Linked DNA regions of Homo sapiens. The protein of the gene in region 1 interacts with the protein of each later gene in a pairwise test. Each region holds a gene or a part of one and is shown on either strand. Other genes may lie near its edges.

Region 1 (3,530 bases):
TGACACTAAAGGACTTAGAATATTATATAAACTTAGTTGATAAAGCAGCAGCAGGGTCTGAGAAGACTCACTCCAATTTTGAAAGAGGTTCTACTGTGGGTAAAATACCATCAAACAGCACCACATGCTGCAGAGAAATCTTTTCTGAAAGGAAGAGTCAATTGATGTGGCAAACTTCATTGTTGTCTTATTTAAAAAAATGGCCACAGCCACCCAACCTTCAGCAACCATCACCCTGATCAGTGGGCAGCCATCAATATTGAGTCAAAACCCTCCCCCAGCATAAAGATTATAACTTGCTGCAAGCTTAGATGATTGCTAAAATTTTTTAGCAATAAAGTATTTTTAATTAAGGTATGCATATGGTTTTTTTTAGACCTAATGCTATCGCACACTTTAAAGACTACAGTATAGTGTAAACATAACCTTTATATGTAGTGGGAAACAAAAAAAGTTGTGTGATTCACTTTATTTTGATATTCACTTTATTGTGGTGGTCTGGAACTAAACCTGCAATATCTCCAAGGTATGCCTGTATTCTCTAATCAAAGAACTGGGCATTCAAAAGTAGGTACAGAAATTAGGTTTTTTTTTTTTTTTTTTTTGCTCCAAATGTGACCTTGGACTATTAAAGATGATTTGGGGTTAAATATTTTTTTAATGGAAATATAATAAGTTATCTGTATATTTATAGTAAAGACTTGGGGCTTGGGATGATATCTGAGTCAAAATAGAGAGCTAGAAATAAGGAAGGTGGGAAAGATAAGAAAATGAGAAGGAATAAAGAAAAATGTCCCAGACCTTTGGTCCTGGAAAGCCGGGTGGCCCAGGAGGGCCTTCTAGACCAATTCTTCCAGGTGTCCCAGGTGCTCCTGGAGGTCCTGGAATTCCAGGAAAGCCTGTAAAATGATAAGTCATTTTTTAACCACCAAAGGAAAGGCACTTTAAGAAAGATATTCAAATTCCCAAACCCACATTCTACTCATGCTTAGTGACAACAGTAAGATGTCAAAAGCACAATGACATTCTACTACTTAGGATTAAGCCTTACAATCCTCTCAATCATCTTACATTCCTTTTATTTTCACATAGAGCTAATGTATGTGGAACATATGCTTTTCTGAAGAAAATGAGGGCTATTATATAATAAGATAGAACTAAATTGTAAGGAATGAATCCCACACAAAAATGCCCAAGAACTTTTCTTCTGCTTATATCTGGATGTAGTATGACAAAGGGCCTACCATATAATTTTGGAAATGATCTAAAAATAACTGCAGATATTATAGATACATACACACATAAAATCAAACCTGATACTTTTGAAAGCATTTTGTATAAATGAGTAAAGATATATTTAAGAACTGTCCTCAGACCACTGTGTGCTCTTGCCATTTGTGAGAATAAATTCTGTGAGGAATAAAGCAGAACTGAAGCATAAGCCCTAAAAATTTCAATAAATCAAGAAAATATTATTTAGCATAAAACATTACTTGGCTACACATCTGCAATAAGTCTGTTTTCTGTTTAAAAAATCCTTTAACTCAATAAACATCAAGTGCACACTATGTGTTAGGAACTGTTCTAAACCCTGAAAATACTATGGTGAACACAAAACACAATAATTCCTGTGATTTTTAAGCTTATATATCACTTTTGCATATCTAAAATGTAGATATTTTCTTGTCTGGACTGTTTTAGATAAAGATAATGAACTTACAGTGAAAATACACTGTGATTTTTTATTTACATTCTTTATAGCACAGAGAAAAAAGGTGCAATTAATATATTTTATTTGTTGAATGAATTTTATGAGAGAATAACATCATGCTAAACTTCTAACCTACTCTGCCTGCTACCCATTCCAACATACCTTTGGGACCAGGTGGTCCAGGAAGCCCAATTCCAGGGATACCTGGTTCTCCTTTGCTACCAGGTATCCCTGGCAAGCCTGGTTGCCCTGGAAGTCCAGGGTCACCTATGGAGAAACAGCAGTTATTGAAAGGAAAACGTTCAAAGAAAGAAGCCATCAGGGCCAGGTGCAGTGGCTCACTCTTGTAATCCCAGCACTTTGGGAGGCTGAGGCAATGGGTCACCTGAGGTCAGGAGTTCGAGACCAGCCTGGCCAACGTGGAGAAACTCCGTCTCTACTAAAAATACAAAAATTAACTGGGCGTGGTGGTGGGCGCCTGTAATCCCAGCTACTTGGGAGGCTGAGGCAGGGAGAACTGCTTGAACCCAGAAGTAGGAGGTTGCTGCAGCAAGCCAACATCACGCCACTGTACTCCAGCATGGGTGACAGAGCGAAACTCTGTCAAAAAAAAAAAAAAAAAAGCCATCGGTGTTGAAGTTACTTTGAAATAAATTCCTCACATACCTGGAAGACCTACATCACCATCTCTGCCTGGGTTACCAGGCAAGCCAGGCTTCCCCGGCTGGGTTATAGTCTGACCTGGATCCCCTTTAGGACCTGAAAGCAAGAGTAAATCAATGGTAAATGAGAAGTATTTACTCAACTAAAGGTCTCTTTTTAATTAAAAACAAAAAAGAAAATTATCAGCAATCTTTTGAAAATGTAAACTAACAAAAATTCACAAGAAAAACAATCTTCCACTATATATTCAAGAAATATATAAAACAGAAGGATAGAATTTCAAAAAGAAAAAGGATATGACAGCCTTAAGGACTTCCATGATTCAAGATGTATAATGGTTAATTTTAGGTTTCAACATGACTAGATTAAGAGATACTGAGATCGCTGGTAAAGCATTATTTCTAGATATGTCTGTGAGGCTGTTTCCGAAAGAAACTGACATTTGAATCAGTGAAACGAATAAGGATGATCCACCCTCACCCAATGTGTGTGGGTACCATCCAATCAGCTGAGGGACCGGATACAACAAAAAGGCAGAAAAAAAGGTGAATTCTCTGCTCTCTCTCTTTTGAAACTGGTACACCCATCCTCTCCTACCCTTGGACATCACAACTCCAGGTTCTCTGGCTTTCAGACTCTGGGACTTGTACTAAGCAGCCACTCAGGTTCTCAGGCATTCAGACTAGGACTGAGCCAAGCTACTGGCTTCCCTAGTTCTTCAACTTACAGGTGGCCTACTGTGGGATTTCTCAGCCTCCATAATCATGTAAGTCAATTCCCATAATAAATCACCTCTCATCTATCTATCTATCTATCTATCTATCTATCTATCTATCTATCTATCTAATCTACCCATCTGTCCATCCTTTTTATTGGTTCTGTTTCTCTGGAAACCCCTAAAACAGGGTGTTACCTATATAAGTATTTTTAAAATGTAGGCCAAAAGAGCATTAAAAATCAAACTGTAGTAAACAAGGAAAATATTTTTTTGGCTAATAGGTACATTTAGGTTTTACATGTGCAAAGTTCAAGTATATCTACTTCTTATTAATGGAAACATGAACTTGAAATTGGCTCAAGAAAAAAAAGATTTCCTAAACATGACACAAAAAGCACTAACCATGAGAGAAAAGATTGATAATTTTGATGATGTGAA
Region 2 (3,355 bases), on another chromosome or scaffold:
AAGGTACCAGACTCCTATGGTAGAAGCTGGGCCTAGACATAATTTAAGTTTTTATTCAATACACATAAGGCTCACTACAGCCCTACTCTCTCTTCCACCCTATACAGAGCTCTTGGTAGGGATCCCATAGCTGGAGCCATAGGTCTTCTCCCCATCCCAATGGACAAACAAAAGAGATACTTTATGCCATAAAAAAAAAAAAAGAACTAAAATATAATCAGAGTAGTTCCTTGGGCCAAGAATAACCTGTATTTTGCTTTTCTATGAGACAGCATGGTAGTACAACCTGCTGCTCCTGCAAGAATACCCCTTAGAGATTTTGCATCCTGGGAAATCATCCAGTCCAAGGATGAAAGTAGACCAGTACAGACTCGGGACAGGAAGGGGTGGCTAAGAAAAAAAGGGAAATCAGTGGCATGCAAAACCATCTCATTAGAAAGATGAAACTGAGGAGTAAATTGCTGATTACCTGAAAACAAGAAATCCAAACAAGAAAATATTATGTTCATTAAGAAAGACCACAATATATCTATAAAACTTTTATTAAAATTGGAATTAGAAACTATACCAAAAACTTTAAAAATACATTAAGACATTGTTCTTTTTTCTTACAGAAAAGAGGGTGAAAATAAGACCCATGGCAAAGAGCCATCCCTGATAATTTTGTTCCTTTCAAACATTCATGAACATTTAAATAAAATTACAAATATTTAAATAACCCTAAGGTATTACCCACAGGCTAAAACTTGCCAGTAATTCCTTAGCCCTGCTATTTCAATATCAATTCCACAAACATGGAAAATTATGGTAACTGCAGGCTGTAACAGTTTCTAATATTCACATTATGAACTATTTGTTATGTTGTCATAAGAATGTGCTCATGCTATAGGCAAATTCAGAGGTGATTTCACCATTTTCAAATTATCATCAAGAGTGTGAAAGAGGAAGATGACACACACGTGGGATGGTGTGGAAATCCAAAGCCCCACATTTTGGGAGTCTGTGACCACTCCCATCTGCCACTAAAGCTACGAGTTGGTGTTGGCATGAATCTGCTTTGTTTATTCCCAGCAGGCTCTGGCTCGTGTCACATAAGGCACCAACATCCTTTTCAAGGTAGTAACCATCTAGAATCAACTCAATTGTAACCTGAATTCATAAGCTTAAGTCACCAAAAGACATCACTGGGTCATAATTATATAGGTTCCCCTAAAAAAATAAAAAAAAAATCAATTTCTGCTATGTAGAAAAAGAAACAAAAGGTTTAGGTGCCTTTGCCTTGTGCAATGGATATTTCATATGTTTATTAATTGGTTTCAGTTAATATGTAATATGAAGGCATGATAAATGTGTCAAACTGTTCTCTTGTTTCAGATACAATTCTTGGCATTTCAATATAGGTTATTATCTCATATGTCAGACTTGAGTCCAGAGAATACTAGAAGGACATTTAATTTCCTTTCCTCCTCCTTCCTTTCACTACTCAATTCAAAGAAAAGTTATGAGTACACAGCTAGGAACCATTTTTACGTAGGCATCCATCTGAGCCCATCTTGTTTTTTTTTTCTAAAACAACAAAAAGACTAAGGACAATTACATAATGCATTCCCAAGCCTTTTATGGATATCAGGGCCTGGGGGGACTATCTGGCCTATTTGGGTTCTTTCATTCACCAAAATTCTATTATACATGCCAAGGGTTAAAGGGAACACCATCAGTCAAGAGACGGCTGGGCCCTAGAATGGAATCTATTAGCATAAAATGGAACAGTGGGACCCAAAGAGCTATCAGCAAAATTCCCTTTGTAACAGACGTAAAAATCATGAATTTGAGGGGAAAAATAAACTAGTTTTGGTGGGATGCAGTGGCTAACAGGAATTACTTATTAGAAGGTAATGAAGTTGCTAAATTTTCCTTGTTTTTGATCCCTGTGTTCTGTTGGTCTCTTGAAGCAATCTGAGTGGGAAAGGAAAGTGAAAGAAATGTTTTATGCCAGCTGCCTCTTGTATTCCCATTAATGGGAGTCTCTACATTAATGCTCTACATAATTTGGTCAGACTGATGAGAGGCAATAGATTTCCAATGCTGATGAGATCCAGAGCCCTGGAGCCCATTTATGGCTTGACATTCACCCAGCAAGACGCTGACGTGGCAGCAAACACGGCTCCAATGTCCAGCTTACCTCATAGTTATCCCTTCAATCCTTCTTGATGAGATTGGTCTGAGAGATGAGACTGTACTGAAATCACAAGAGCTATAACTGCCAGAGAAAAATTAAATGGGGTCTTCAAGTAGTGACTGAGCCAGCAAACTAAGTGGCCAAGAGGGAGACAAGAGCAGCTCCTAAAGAAGGTTGAAGTCAAGCAATCTCCGGAACACAGAGGATCTGAAGCATCTGGGCAGAGCCACAGGCAGGCAGGGCAAGGACACACAGCACACCAGAGCAGCACCGTCCTTCACTGTGTGAGAGCAACTCTCAGGCTGCAGAACCAATTGCCATCTCCACTGCCTACAGCTCAGGTCTCCAACTACCAGATAGGGAGTAAAAAACAGTTTGATTTTATTCACCTCAAGTCTAAACACGGTGGAAAAAAAACTGGTCTAGAGATGGAAACTATATTTCATGGGGGTTTATTAAACAGAGAAAGAGGAGAATCTTTCACAATTTCACAGTGCTTTCTCATTGAAATAAAGACATGATCAGGAAAAGTCACCCTTATAGGCAAGCTATCACCTCCCTAAGTAGGGGAGGCACCAAAATCTCCAGAGAATCCTGAGACCACTTGCACGAGTTGAATTATTTTTTAAAATAAACTTATGCTTAAATATGCTAGGTCTCAATTTCTATAAATAAGGTAAAAAATAGTATATTTCAGAAGTTTTAATAGTTCTTTGTAGAGAGAGAACATTTTACCATGTACATAATTCACAAGGGTATAAAGGTTTCCCAATGTAAAGTTCCTTTTACCCTTCAACTGTAACCCATAGCATCTGCCCAAATACTGCTCATTTTTCACTTTCTACTATATGTCTCTTTCCTGCCAACTGAGGTAGTTGTCACTTAGGACAGTTTAAGGCTCTGGAAAACACTGGTGGAAATAATCAACTGCCCACCTGGAGGGCAGTCTCAGAGCTGACCCTTTGGAAGTCTGCAATGGAGCTAGGCCTTTCAAAATTACCACGCTAAATGGCTGGTCTAAAGGAGTCATTACGGCTTTTTAAAAAATCATCTGCCTTTTTCCATCATCTTGGTGAGCCAGTAAGTCTGGTGCTGTGCGCTTGCCATGACCATCTATCTTCCTGGCTAAGGTAATTACAGACTTTTCCAGGGTATAAGGGTGAAGACCACAAAGAA

What was found. The genes of interacting proteins can lie anywhere in the genome.
Region 2: the proteins of COL4A5 (region 1) and NEMP1 interact in binary tests that used the Homo sapiens proteins (3 or more experiments, as listed by UniProt).

The regions. Positions count from the first base shown.
Region 1 is NC_000023.11:108,600,333-108,603,862, reverse strand, and holds part of COL4A5 (collagen alpha-5(IV) chain isoform 2 precursor), read right to left. Parts: intron 2,471-3,530; coding exon 2,378-2,470; intron 1,979-2,377; coding exon 1,874-1,978; intron 900-1,873; coding exon 802-899; intron 1-801. UniProt on the Homo sapiens protein: Type IV collagen is the major structural component of glomerular basement membranes (GBM), forming a 'chicken-wire' meshwork together with laminins, proteoglycans and entactin/nidogen.
Region 2 is NC_000012.12:57,055,117-57,058,471, forward strand, and holds the end of NEMP1 (nuclear envelope integral membrane protein 1 isoform a precursor), read right to left. Parts: 3' UTR 527-3,355; downstream 1-526. UniProt on the Homo sapiens protein: Together with EMD, contributes to nuclear envelope stiffness in germ cells. Required for female fertility. Essential for normal erythropoiesis. Required for efficient nuclear envelope opening and enucleation during the late stages of erythroblast maturation.